2 linked regions of the Homo sapiens genome follow. Each later gene encodes a partner of the first gene's protein in a complex. Each region holds a gene or a part of one and is shown on either strand. Other genes may lie near its edges.

What was found. The genes of interacting proteins can lie anywhere in the genome.
Region 2: the proteins of EDA (region 1) and EDAR are in contact, whole or in part, in a crystal structure (PDB 7X9G), measured with the Homo sapiens proteins. Residues at the interface, in NP_001390.1 of Homo sapiens: Gln256, Ser258, Ala259, Gln261, Asp265, Asp273, Arg289, Tyr310, Tyr311, Lys340, Thr341, Tyr343, Ser370; in NP_071731.1 of Homo sapiens: Glu55, Pro56, Tyr57, Leu58, Lys78, Ile86, Arg88, Arg89, His90, Asp92, Glu94, Gly95, Phe97, Val134.

The regions. Positions count from the first base shown.
Region 1 is NC_000023.11:69,612,213-69,619,171, reverse strand, and holds the start of EDA (ectodysplasin-A), read right to left. Parts: upstream 3,060-6,959; 5' UTR 2,864-3,059; coding exon 2,468-2,863; intron 2,087-2,467; coding exon of another isoform or gene 2,081-2,086; exon of another isoform or gene 1-2,080. UniProt on the Homo sapiens protein: Cytokine which is involved in epithelial-mesenchymal signaling during morphogenesis of ectodermal organs. Functions as a ligand activating the DEATH-domain containing receptors EDAR and EDA2R. May also play a role in cell adhesion.
Region 2 is NC_000002.12:108,986,221-108,993,893, forward strand, and holds the start of EDAR (tumor necrosis factor receptor superfamily member EDAR precursor), read right to left. Parts: upstream 3,001-7,673; 5' UTR 2,740-3,000; intron 1-2,739. UniProt on the Homo sapiens protein: Receptor for EDA isoform A1, but not for EDA isoform A2. Mediates the activation of NF-kappa-B and JNK. May promote caspase-independent cell death.

The DNA.
Region 1 (6,959 bases):
TGTAACAGCAGTTGTTTGTGTTTAAAAACTAAAATATAAAAATATGACCTACGTGGCCAAATCCCACAAGGCTGTTTACTTCCTTATTTACTGAATCAGAATCTGTCAGCACAATGTAGAATTCTGAGTGTCAGCAGATACTGAAAATTAAATGTCACTGTAAAGCCAGCAGAGGGTGCACCAGGGCACTAGAAATTTTAACCAAGCTTGTAGCAGTATTAATTTAATACCCAATCAACTTTTTTAAAAAGTTATTTTTGTATACTAAAACTAATATACAAGATAAGATAAACTTAAGTTGAACAACTTAAAATAAACAAGTTGAATTTGGGCTAAAATTCCTTCAAAGTATACTCCAAATCTGAAAGTGAAGTTCAGGAAGAATAAGGAACACACGGTTAAACTTACTGTGGTCAAAATACAGGCAGAGTAGAACAAAATGATGCAGAGCTGAGCCCTCTACTTTGCAAAAGTTCTAATGTGGAGCTCCATCTTGCTCCCTCGCAAAAGGTCCCAGGAGGTAGTTGGGGGAATGGGCACCCAACTAGGAGTTAGAGCAACTATCATCCCAGTTTTGACTCTAGTTATGTGACCTTGGGCAAGTCACTTTCCCTTTAGGGCCTATGTTTCCCAAGGGAATCAAACGAAATGGACTCATATAAGCCCTTCATAACTCTAGGAAACTGATTCCAATTGATGTCAACAAATGTAAAGAGCTAGTATCCTTGCTTCTATTGCTCAAAAATATTAAAACAGAAAGAATAAAAGACAGAAGATAGGAAGCTGTGTTTAAATCTAGACAGAACTATTTTAGTGCCACACAAAGGGTAGGTAACTAAATGCCATTATACACCTGTAAGAGTTTCATGCCATCACAGAAACCTTACAGTACAGCTGTTCTGCTAATCCTCAGTCTATAAAAATGGCTCTGTCCATCCTGAATGCCAAAAAGTATTGGCCAACATTTGATTAAAGAAGTTTAATTCTTTCATCTTTTCACAGAATATCAATGTTCAGCTGCTAAATACTTCTGCTGGGCATTGGGGTGTGGGGGGAGTGGCAGTAGATAAATAAAGGAGTCAGAATCCTAGTTAATTATCGTTTAGCTACAATGTTTAAAGTTTCAAGTATGAGAAGCATGTCTGCTGATTCTCTTCTTTGATAAGCTGTTATATAAATTGGAGTGTGCTAGTAAGACATTTTAAGGCTCAGGGCAACTTTACAATGCACATCTTTTTTTTTTTTTTTAAGTATCAGTCCTAACATTACACTATTATCATGAATATGATGTCTCTATCAAGCGTACCACTTTAGATGGGAGGTCAAAGTGGCACAAATAATGTTTACAGAGTTGTGACAATGACTCTGGATGTGGCAGTAAATATAGAAGGCTTGGGTCCCTCACCTCAAGGAACTTATTTGTACAACTTGCTCTCTTCCCTAAGAGGTACAATTTTATTATTATTCTTTAGCCACCTCGAAAGGATCCTTGGATGCTTCTCCTAAGTTTCACATATGGCAACCAAGACAGTATTTACGTTAAGTGAACGAAATTTACTTGAATAAAAAGCTAGAAAGAATAGAATAGAAAACAAACACCAAAGCTAATAGTTTGCTTATTAGGGCACAAACACCATAAAGATTGCAAAAACAAACAAAACTGCTCTTGGGGGACGAGTCCTGAGTAATTATTCCATTGGCAGATTCCCGTTCTCAAGCTAACAGTAGTAAAAGCGCTTCCCACCCACCCTTCCCACCGCACACCTACCCCGCTTAAGAATCAGAACCGGCATGCAAAGGGTGAGTTTTATTTCCATAGATTTTTAAAATTGCTGTTCAGAAGTTGTCTAGCAAGACGGCATATTTCTACCAGAATTCCTCAGGGGCGCTGATCCTCACTAGAACGCCGAGGACAATCAGTCTCAAATTGCAGGTAAGTGTGAACAAGCCCACGTTCTGGTCAGCGCACAAGGACCCGCGCTGAAAATGCGGTTAAAAGTTGTTTCAACGGGCGGGCGTGGAACAGTTATTACAGCTGTTTACAGCTCCAACTCCAAAGGGGAGCCTGCTGGTTCTGGCATCAGCTCTAGACACGAAAAAACAAGCACCGCGGGCAGAGAACCTCATCACGAGCAGAAGGGCCAAGCCGTTAGTCGGCCGGGGGGCAGCGCAGGCACCTCCTCGACGGGAGCGTCGCCAACTTTTCTCGAGGCAGCCCGCAGCCAGGGGCCGCGGGCGCGCGCGAGACTTTCCAAGTCAAGGGGTCCCCAGGGAGTCTGGATTAGCTGGGCCAGGGACCGAAGACAACCTGCCCTGGGCAACTTCTCCCTTGCTCGCCTGGTCCCTCCCTGGTCCTGCCCTCTAAATTGGCTCGAGGTTGCTGAGTGCTCCCAGGCCCCTGTGGCGGAGGGCCCTCGCCCTACCCGCGAGGGGAGGGGGCCGCCGCCGCCCCTACTAGGTGACTCACCTGGTGCCCGTCCTGGGAGTCAGAGTGGAGTGCGGCTTCTCCCGGTTCCAATGGCTGCTGCTTAGGTGACGGCTGCCCAAGGTGACTGGTGATGGGGCTGTCAGGGTCGAGGCCACCGAGGCTGCTTAGGGTGCCAGAGGTGCCAGGGGTGCCCGAGCCGCCAAGGCGGGACTCGGCTCCACGTTCCCGCCGCAACTCCGAGCGCAACTCTAGGTAGCAGCACAACGTCAGCAGGTGGAGGGCCAGCGAGAGGCCAAAGAAACCCAGGAAGAGCAGGCAGCTGTTCCCTTCGCCCGCCCGGGCAGGGGCCCCGCCACACCCGCAGCCCTGGCTCCCTCGCTCCCGCGGCGCTGCTGCAGGCAGGAGTTCCCTGCGCTCCACCTCCGGGTAGCCCATGGCCTCCGGAGACACCCACTCTCTTGAGGCCCGGGAGCCGCTGCGTCTGCCTCAGCCGTTCACGACCTCTGACAGGCGGCTACTGTCCTGCCATCGGCTGGGGGCTGCAGGGACCCGTTCCTGCGCGACAGTGGCTGGGCGGGACGGAGCAGGGAGCAGCCGCATGTGCAGCTCTACTCCGAGGGGTGGGAAAGGGAGGAGGAGGGGCGGGAGAGAGGGGAGGCTCGGCCCGCCGAGGGAATGAAGGAGGAGGTCCCGGCCGACCCCGCCCCATCCCTCAAGCGGCTGCCGGGACGCCCAACCACGGGGCCGCCAAGCCTTGGCGCCCCGCCCCGTGCCGTTCCAGCCGGGCCTCCAGCCGCGGGGCGGGGCCTGGGGGCGTGAGGGTTCGCCTCTGCCTGGCCGCCCCACCCAGCTCTTCCCGCTTGCCCCGTACCAGTTGGTGACTGGCGCTGTCGTTCATCCCTGGGCTCCGCCCCAGTTTAACCCTATAGCGCCAGTACGGGGAGGAAAGGAGGGGGAGGCTAAGAATTTGGGAACCTTGGAAAGAAAGTAGAGCAAAGAAAAGGAGGCAGAAACTAGCATTAATAGAAATGTTTGCAATTAACTGCAGTTGTTAATAACATCATCCAGTACTTATCTGTTGCTTCCAATCTTCAAAGCGTTTAACAGACGTTAAACTAATTAAAACAGCTCTGGGTTTGGAATGAAACCATGCCTGCTGTGTTTGCAATTCAATGGCTCGCCCGAAGAAAAGGAGACCCAGGAGCCTGGGAACTATGGGAATGGGTGGGACTCAAGCAGCCTCACTCCTGGAGTGACTCTGAAGGCTCAATCTAAGTAACAGAGAAGCCGCCCCATGCCAAGCGGAACTGAAATGATGTTGTCCCTTGAAGGGTAAAACAGTCTCCTAGGATTTCTTGATATATTAATTAATTCAACAAATATCTATCGATCCCTGTACAATGCAAAAAATGCTGTATGAGAGCATCCACAGCCAGAATAGATTTCTTCCACTGCAGCAGTTTTGATTGGAGAACGTATGTCTTCAGTGAGTAGACAGGGAAACCGAGGGCCAGAATGAAGTGGATTTGTACAAGTGTGGTCCACAGAATGGCCAGACACTACTGGCATCTTTATTTACAGGCAACTGTTCTGGCCTCTCCACCCCTCCCATCCTTCTCCTGGAGTACTCCCTGGGGGAAGTTCAACAAGTCAGCCAAATGTTCCAGATGTACACTGCTGCAACTGCAGCATCTTCAACAGCTGCACCAATCAGAAACGGGTTCAGATAAAAAAAAAAAAGTGGCAAAAGGCAGAACAATAGACCCTGAAATGAAGGATGGAAAGGATTAAATCAAGAGTCACAATTGACAAGAGTTACTAGTCTGAGATTATAGAAAGCGAAATGACCATAGCAGGGGAACCATGTATGCTTCATAGTCACTACGCACTCTCATTCCGTGTTATTGAGTAATGAATAATTAACAATTTTATTGACTTGCAGCAGGCATCTTGAGTGTCATCATGGAGGCTCAGCAATGCCGGGGGCACTTATGTGTAGGCCTAAGACCTAGGCTGGTGGAAGAGAAGAAAAACATAGATAGAAATAGAAAAGAAGACAAAATAAGAGAAATAAAACACAAAACCAAAAGCATCTGCTGGCAGGTCAGTCCAGAGAGCACAGAGGTCATAAGCCTTAAATATATTAGCCACAGACAACTTTTCTCTGTACACTTTGTGAATGGTCTCAGTGCTTCAAAAACATCTTTGTGTCGTCTCTTTAACCCCTACCCATGAAATATAAAGTTCACAAAGAATATCATCATCCTAGAGCTAAGGGGAAAAAAGGTGTTTAACAGCTGCTCTCAAGTCCTGCTTGTCCAGTCCAGGAATTCTAGATGCTAGGAAAACTGCCAGGCTGATTTACTTTAATTATCACAGCCCGGGATTATTGGAAAGAATGCTAGACCAGGAGTCAGGAGACTTCATCCTGCCACTAGGTTGCTGGGTCCCTCTGAGCAAGTCACTGTGCTTTTTCAGGGCCTTAGTTTCTCCGGCAGTAAAATGAGGAGTTTGAACTTTAACAGCCTTTACACTGTGTTTTGTCTGTGTTGTCACTGGCCATGTTGACTTTCTTGCATACACAGTTTAAACAGGCTGCCCTTTCTTCCTCTAAAATGAAAAGGAAACAAATGACAGCCATCTCCTGGTGGTGATGGTGATGCTCAGGGGCCACACTGGTCTCACCTTACCATGTTCTACCAGGCTTGACTGAGACTCTGGATTACACCATTGCCCTCAGAAGCCCTGAGGGTTGCATTTGACCTGGGACCTCTCTTTGCTTCCCCAGAGAAAGAACATGTGTCATCATATGCAGTAGAAATGTTGGAATGGGGCAATCCAGAGAGGAATGTATGTGGTTATTTTTTAAGTGTTTTAAAGTTTTGTTTCAGTTAGCTTCTATGCTTCCATACGTATCCTGTCCCCTAAAGCACAGGTCTCAATGACAGCCTGCAGGCCACATCCAGCAAACAGATGTGTTGTGTTCGGTGCAGTATCAACTAAACCTTTGAATTAAAAAAAAAAAAAAGCAATTGTCAGCTATTGGAACTCTGGAGATTTCACATTTTTAAAAAATCCAGATTTCCTGCTTTTCTGTTAAAAAACCAGAAGACCCTATAACTCTGGATTCACATTCCCATGTGGCTACACTCAGCTAGAACTGTCTCCTTGAAATAAGCATGAACAATCAAGTTCCACAGCCATCACCACCTCTTTCTTCTATCCTTCATTACTGTCCTTGTCACTCATTCACCTTACCTCTTTGATCCCAGGTACTACGGGAGACAAGATATAAGCTCCTTAACATGCCCTCTAGTCTGTCTCTCCAACATTATCTTCCACCATTTTACAAGGAAGTCATGCTTGCACACTACTAAATTTGCTGACACTTCTCACACCACCGTGCCTTTGAACAAACTAGTTTCTTTGTCAAGATTGCCCCTACCTTAGAAACCTGATAAATTCTTCAAGAATCAATTCACATGTTCTGTCTGGTATGGCCCCACAACTCACTCCAACCAGACTTCCTTTGTGCTTTCATTGCACCCTGAGCATACTTTGATGATATCACTTACCACACTGCATTTTGAATGTTTCACATGGATTTCTTACCACTAAACTATGAGCTCCTTGATGGTAAGAATTGTGTCCTTTCTATTTTGCTATTTCTAATCTCTAGCATAGCACCTACCACATAGTAGGCACCAATATTGTTTTATTTTGATATTTCTAATACCTAGCATGGCACCTACCACATAGTAGGCACCAATATTGTTTGTCAAATGAATAAGACATGAAGTCACTCACGGTAACTTAGACTACCTAGAATTCCAAAAAGGGAACTTGTCCAAGGGATGCCTGTCCGTACCACTTATGAAACATTTCCTGGGTGAAGAGCTACATGATACATTATGGAAAGTTACAAAGGAAATAGAACCAAATGAAAATTGTGAAATTATCCTCTTACTTGTGCTGCTATGGAAGTTGTGAGTAATCCAGAAAAATAAATAATCCAGAAATTAAAATATAGTTGGTTTGTAATATTTCACTGACCTGTCTGTCTCATCAAGTTTCCCTTCCTACTTTTGTTTGTCTGGCCCTAAAAAATAATATAGCTGGGCGTGGTGGCTCATGCCTGTAATCTCAACACTTTGGGAGGCTGAGATGGGCAGATCACCTGAGGTCAGGAGTTCCAGATCAGCCTGGCCAACATGGTGAAAACCCATCTCTACTAAAAATACAAAAATTAGTTGGATATGGTGGCGGGCACCTGTAATCCCAACTACTCAGGAGGCTGAGGCAGGAAAATCGCTTGAACCAGAGAGGCGGAGGTTGCAGTGAGCTGAGATTGTGCCATTGCACTCCAGCATGGGTGACAAAAGCGAAACTCTATCTCAAAAAATAAAATAAAATAAAATAAAATAAAATAAAATAAAATAAAATAAAATAAAATAAAATAAAATAAAATAAAATAAAATAAAACAATATTAGTTGACAACCCCCAAATAATAAAGATCCAAAATATGTTGTC
Region 2 (7,673 bases), on another chromosome or scaffold:
ACAGTTTTTTTCACTATATAAAAACTACAAACACTCTAACTTTTATCAGGAGGGTTCACAAAGAACAAAACTGAGACTGTTTCCTCTTGATCCCTCGCCTCTGAGGACAGGAGATGAGTGTGTCTGGGGCTGACACGACCCTGGGAAACTAAGATACAGGAGGGGGAGTGTTTGCTTACTCCACTCTTATTTTTATAATCCCTGGTGGCTGTCATTGCACCATCTCCTTGTGGGGGCAAATGTGTCAGTGTTGGAGGCAGAGGACACAGGTTCTAGTCTCAGCCCCTCCAATTATGAGTGACAGGCTCCACACGAGGCCTGGGCATACTGAGTGCTAACCTAGACCAGTTCTTGGTGTTCCCATAATCATTATGAGCTGTGGGACTTCGGGCAAGACAGTGAACCTCTCTGAGCCTCAATTTCCTTATTGGGAAAATAGAGAAGACATTCATGACAACGCTTTGTAAAGTGCCATAGAAATGTACAGCAGAGGTTAAATGATTAGACATCAGCTTATGTTTCCTTGCTTTATTTTTTAGGAAAATAGTAATCTTTGGGACTTAAAAAAAATTCCTTCCTGCAATATACGAATTCAGTAAGGACAGAATCGTAGGCATTGAGATGGAGGCGGCATACTCACAGGAAAGGCTGGCTGGGGCTTTTGTCCCCTAATTGATCTAATGTGCTAAGTGGGCTTAATGTAAGTTAATTAATGATACTATTGGTGGGTGGAATACCTAGGCAGAGCCTCAAACAGCATCAAAGGAACGAGCAGGCAGGTGTCATCCAGGATAATTGAGGCATGCAGGCAGTCACTAGGCAGGCTAGGAGGAGGGTGAGGGGAAACTGAGCCCAGCTGAGGGGCTGAGCCACTTAAGCAGCAAGGCTGTCTGCCAAACACCATCCTGTTTACAGCTCCTGTATTTGAATTTCAGATTTGCTTGAGTCTTTGAAGCTGGGTTCCTGGGCATTTCCTTGAGAATAAATTCTATTCTTTGGAAACCACAAAACGCACTCACTTGGACCCAGAAAGGAGCGTCAGGTAACCCAGCTTCCATCTGTGGGCCTATGAGACCTGAGGAACTTTGACTAGAAGAGGCTCCCCATTTAACAGAGGCAAGTAGGTTTTGCGCTCCGTGAGATGGGGTAAGACCAGGTCTGTCTGCACTCCGGAGCAATGTTGGGCTGCCGCCCAATGGCAGGCACTGGGCTAGGCAAGAGGGTACCATGATGCCTGAGAAACAAAGATGAGCCCCTGACATGTCTGTGCTTCACAAATGTGTATGCCCAACAAAATGAAAGTCCAGCTCACAAAAGCAAGAAACCAGGTAGTGGCCAGGGAGTGAAAATCAAGCATTTCAGGGAAAGTGTATTTACTTTTTCCTCCCAAAGACTGGTCCTTCCAAGATTATCCTCCAACTGTGCTGTCACAAATTAATCCTCCCACAGCACAGCCTGGCCCACTTAGGGATGGGGAGGGGTACAGTGGAGACCCCCGGCCAATCGCCACCAGGATCGCCAAACTTTCCCAGCCGTGAAGGGTACACGTGGACTGTCATCGGAACGAACGCTTATTTCCAAGCCTTGACCAGAGTCACTCTCTTTTTGGTGGCCTCTGTCAAAATGTATCTTTAAAGGTTTTAAGTGGCTATGACTTACAAATCTCAGAGTATTAAGCCAGGCAAGAAACATTCTCTATTTTAGATGCCTGGATCCCTTTTTTCCTTCAGTCTATTATGGCTCTTCACTTCTTTGTTACACTTTCACTCTTGCTTAGAAAGTGTCTCAAAAATGCCACTTGAGAGCCACAGAGCAGTGGCCTGGGGACTGGGGAAGAGGACGGTGGTGCTCCTGTCTCTCCGTACGTCTCCTCACATGCGTGTACCCCTGGCTGTGTGGGATTGCCCACTGACCGGCATCTGCCCTGCTTGTTGATTTTAACTGTCCCTCTTGTTGCTGACCCAGCACAACATGGGCAGGGAAACCCAGTGGGAACCTCGCCTGCTGACCTCCCTGCCCAGCCACCCGCTTCTCCCTGAGCTGACATCTCAAAGCTTGGCTGCTGCAGGAGGCTGGGAATCAGAGCCGACTGAATCAGAGCCGACTCCTGTCTAGGAGCCCAACCCACCCCACGGTCTGTCAGAGTGTTGAGAGGAACCTCTTGGCTGGAAATGAAAACCTCAATCATCACAAATAGGTACCCACTCCCCTCCTTCTCTCCCTCTCCCCGCTCCCCCGCCACCAACACAGAGGCCAGGATATGGGGGGTCTCAGACACGACTGGAAACCCCACTTGGAAGGTCTCTTAGGTCACAGCGGGTACGCAGAGTTGGAGGCAGGTACAGAGCCCAGCTAGAGTCCCTGCCGCGCCTGCCTTCCCCAGTGAGCCGGGCACAGGGGCAAACCTGAGAAACATACTTTTCACGCTCCCTGGAGGAACCCGTTGCTTCAGTAGCCCAAATCTTAAAGCCTGTGAAGCACACACAGAATTTGTCTCCCTAACCAAATGTGCAACCAACAGCAAAACAGGGTTTCTGATGTTTTTCTAAAACAAAGGAACAATCTCAGGTCTTAGAACTGGTAGCGCAGACATACTGCAATCGGTAAAGCTTGTTCAAACGCAACCCAAAAATGACATGCATTTCAAAAATGCACCCAGCCTCTCTCCCAGCCCATGACACCTCCGTCTCGGCCACAGCTGAAGAGTTTAGAAAACCAGAGGAAAGGACCAGGGCTTACCTGGCTTCTGTTGGAGGTCAGCTTCAGTCCCAGCAGAAGATGGGTCTATGAAGAAAGTCAGGTACCATCCAGTTCTGGGTGACAGGCTTCACAGGTGGCCACCGTGGCAGCCCTCTCAGAAGCAGGTACTCTATGTCCTTAGGGGCCAGCAGGGCTGCCTGGGACCTGGCACACCTCTCTGACACTAGCCCCGCTTCCTTTCCGTTTAAAGGGCTTCCCGGGAACTCTTCCTTGACCGCTCCCTGCCCTGTCTGCAAGTTTGGAAACTCAGTCCTTGCCGAGGGGCTTTCCCTCATTGCAAACTCACCTGCACCATCTAGAGGTCTCTCCCAGCACTGGAGAGGCTGGAGCGGGCACGTTCAGCCCTGCTGCCATAGGTCCCTGGCACACCTGGCTCTCCGGCCGTCTGCCCCTTAAGAGATCTGTTGGAATGCGTAAAAATCATGGATTTTTTTTTTTGCAGGGGTGGGGGCCTTGCTTCTATCAGAGCCTTTAGGCGTGGGAGTGCTAAAAAGCTAAACTAGCATTAAAATATCATTAATCAAAGCTTGTTCGTAGAAGGACCCCCCACTGAGATGGCTACAGGCATGGGTGCCACTGCACGGATTCAGCTTCCAACATGTCTGTTCACATTCTCACCCATCCCCCGCACATCCCTCAGGGTTTGAGCCACCAGGACTGCTCTTCCTTTCCTCTCTCTGGACACCTCACACCACCAGTGTATACCCATGTAACTTCAGATAACCATACACACCCCCCGTATAACTAGGTAATTAGGAAGCCATTTGAAACATCAACATTTTGAAAGGACATACCTTTCAGTATTGGGCAATTATTTCTCAAAAAGTAAATGATTGGGGGGGGGAAAACAGCCTTAAAATAATGTCATTCTCTTGTCATTTTCTCCCTCATTCACACCTACACAGATAAATACAGGAACAGAGCAGCTCCTCCAGGCTAGATTTCTGTGTTCTCCTTTTCCATCTTGTCCCCTCTGCCTTGGAAACCTACAAGGTAACTCACACATGAGAAAGTAAGAGCTTAAGAAAGAAACAGTCTGGGCTCCGTGGCTCACACCTGTAACCCCAGCACTTTGGAGGCTGAGGCGGGCAGATCACTTGAGGTCAGGAGTTTGGGATCAGCCTGGCCAACATGGTGAAACTCCGTCCCTACTAAAAATACAAAAATTAGGCCGGGCGCGGTGGCTCACGCCTGTAATCCCAGCACTTTGGGAGGCCGAGGCGGGTGGATCATGAGGTCAGGAGATCGAGACCATCCTGGCTAACAAGGTGAAACCCCGTCTCTACTAAAAATACAAAAAATTAGCCGGGCGTGGTGGCGGGCGCCTGTAGTCCCAGCTACTCGGGAGGCTGAGGCAGGAGAATGGCGTGAACCCGGGAAGCGGAGCTTGCAGTGAGCCGAGATTGCGCCACTGCAGTCCGCAGTCCGGCCTGGGTGACAGAGCGAGACTCCGTCTCAAAAAAAAAAAAAAAAAAAAATATACAAAAATTAGCCGGTGGTGGCATGTGTGGAGGCTAAAGCAGGAGAATTGTTCGAACCCAGGAGATGGAAGTTGCAGTGAGCCGAGATTGTGCCACTGCACTCCAGCCTGGGCAACAGAGCGAGAATCTGTCTCAAAACAGAAAAGAAAAGAAAAGAAAAAAGCAGACAGAAATGTATGGGGCTGGGGCAAGGACCTAGACTGTAAAGGACTAATTCTGCCTCCACAGAGATTAAGCTGAACCAGAGTTACTTAGCTGACTTGATCCTTGTGGATGATTAATCTAGATAATATAAGCTCCCAAACAAGAATTTTAACTTGAATTTTCAGGTTTGGTTGTCTACCCTGCTCATGCCGAGTTCAGACTGAGGGTCTGTGATAAATTAAAGTCACTGAAATTATTAAATTAGGAACCTGGGAAAATGAATGGGAGGTATTCTGGGCTAATCTGTTCTACTCCATATAATTTTTACTTTCTGGTGTGCTCACAGTGTGTTTGAGGTTTGGGATTATTTTAGGTGTAACTAAAACATTTTTTCTATTGGAAATTAAGTGGTGATTTAAAATTTACCAAAAGGAATGATACTGATATTTCCCAAAGAGAGAGAAAAAAGACACAAGAAAAAATTAAAATGGCACAAAATATGGATGCTGTAATAGAAGCCAAGGGAGTTTTTTCCTCTCTTTGAAAAAAATCCAAACATCATGGCATTAAGCAAGGTTATGGATGGTTATACTTGAAGTCTGCCTAGTCATCATATCCAAATGAAAATGAGTATATAATTAATTCAGTTGATTAAGAGAAAGAATGAAATGAGAAATCATTGCTTATCTTCATCATGTAAAGCTCCAGAGCTTTGAAGATATGTGATTTTCTGTTTTATACATTTCCTAAGAGACTGAGGCAGAAATAGCAACAGGTTATCAATAGCATTTTTTAAGTAAGAAAATGAATCAAGACTGCAGAACATGGTTGGGTGAAGGGGGTCTCCTGGGGCTGTGTTCTAAATTTAGAACAAATTTAGAAATGATGAATGTAATTTAGAACAAATGAATTGTAATTTAGAACACATGCTTGCTACACATAACAGCCCGGCCAGCCACCTGCCCCCTTCATGAGGTGTGCTCAAATGCATGGCCAGGAGTCTTATGGAGGGGCACAACAGGCAGGCTGGCCCCAGCTCTCAGCTCCGCAGCAACAAAACTTCGCAAGTGATTTTAGAGAGTCAATGGACTCCCATCCCTGTAAAAAACACTCAGGGGTTGGTAAGAATTATCTTGCAGATCAGATAATTTCCAGTGAGTGAAACAGAGCCATATTCTGGTCATCGTGATTTTAAATTTGTGTCTTTTATTTTTTTGGTGAGACAGAGTCTTGCTCTCTCGCCCAGACTGGAGTGCAGTAGCGTGATCTTGGCCCACTGGAACCTCTGCCTCCCAGGTTTAAGCGATTCTCAGCCTCCCGAGGAGCTGGGATTACAGACATGTGCCACTGCTCCCATCTAATTTTTGTATTTTTAGTAGAGACAGAGTTTCACCATGTTGGCCAGGCTGGTCTCGAACTCCTGACTTCAAGTGATCCTCCTGCCTCAGCCTCCCAAAGTGCTGGGACTACAGGTGTGAGCCACCGGACTCACCTTAAATCTGTGTCTTAATTACAAATCTCATGTTGTGTGAGCAGAAAGAAAATCCTTGATACCCATGTACCCCATCAAAGTAGCATTCTCCTATGCCATCATGTTCATGTGTTTATTCATGCAGCAAATGCACGTCACGTCTTCTACGTGCCGGTACTGTTCCAGTTGCTGGGTAGATCACAATGAGAACAACAGTCAAAATCGCTGGCCTCAAGAAGCTTATGCTCTGTTTGGGGAGGCATAGAGTAATCAAGTTATGAAATGGAGATGAAAAGTACTTCTTGGCCGTGATAAGCAAGGGTGCACAGGATGCCTGGATTATTTGTGTTTGTATGTGAGGGGATTATCAGTTGGCTGGTGACAGTTTCCTGCTACTAATTACTGTCTCAAAAAGTGGCAGGGGAATCAAACACTCCAAAAGCAAGATGCTCCTGTCTGGCAGCTGGGCCCTGACATATAATTGGTTTCACCTAACAACTCACCACAGCAAGTAAACTTCTGGTTACCTGCAGGTGAAGTCTATCTCAGAAAACCTTCCAGGAAATGACATTGCTCAAATCCTAACACAGTGTGTGTATATTTGATGAAATGTTTTTATGCTCATGGTGACACCCACTAAGTTATTCAGAATAAAATGATCACAGTTCTGTCTATAGTGTAGAGTTTGCAGCTTCAAATTTGTCCCACAACTGGGACTGTTTTCTGGAAGAACGTTGCCCCTGCCTCGTGGCACAGTGGCTCCCAGGACTGACCTGGCCTGGCTTCTTTGCTTTCCTAAAATGCGTTTGTCCCCAGCTCTGTCAGTGGTAACCTCACAGGGCTCTGCCCTCCTCAGCACTGGCCAGCTAGTTTTTAAAGTATCATCTCAGAGCACCCGCTACTCATGTGGTCACAGTTCCATAGGCAGAAAAAACAGGAATATAAATATTTGTGATTTAAAGTCTCTCTTAGGAACCACACCTTCCTAGGCTTGCAAATGTGCCTAAAATATGAGAATGGAATTGGGTGATACGGCGGACACCAGCAAGCTGATGTGGGGGTAAGGGGGTGTGAGGGGCGGTGCTTTGGTTGTTGAGAAGGAAAGTTGACCAAGACTTGCGAAGGAAGAAGGCAGTCCTGCAGAGTTGGGCAGAAGGTGTTTCAGATGGACCAAAGGTCTTGTACAAAGGTCCTGTGGGGCCCAGAGCCAGGTGTGCTGAGGAAACTGACAGGAAACTGTGGCCACAAAGCAGGGAGCTGGCCTGGGAGGCAGCTGAGCCCAGCCCAGGAAGGGTGGTAGAGACCACATTCCACGTGGGGGCTGGACAAAAGGGTATGGATTCTATTCCAAGTATATCATGATTTGAAAATGATGGAAACTTGTTTTAGAAGTAAAATGGGCCACTATCCTTAGCAAAATGAGGAAAGGGAGAGACTAAGTCTGGGGGAGTATTTGCACAGAGGGAGGGCCTTTAGGGTGTCACCTAGATACCGGGAGATGAAATGCTATGTGAACCATTGTCAAGCTTGGGTGATCTGTCCTCCCCCAGCATAAATTCAGATGGGACAGCTCCAGGTCAAAGGCAGAGGAAAGAGCTGGGCTTTGCGTTGATTGTACCCTATTGGAGAATGAGATTCTGCATTTAGTTATTTAACTAAACTTTGAACACTGACCCCCTGCTACTGATTAAACAAAAGCCTGGCTTTCCTTTGGCTACCTGCCTTAGCTTGGGCTGCTATAACAAAAATATTGTAGGCTGGGAGGCCTCAACAACAGACATTTGTTTCTCCCAGTTCTGGAGGCTGGGAAGTCCGAG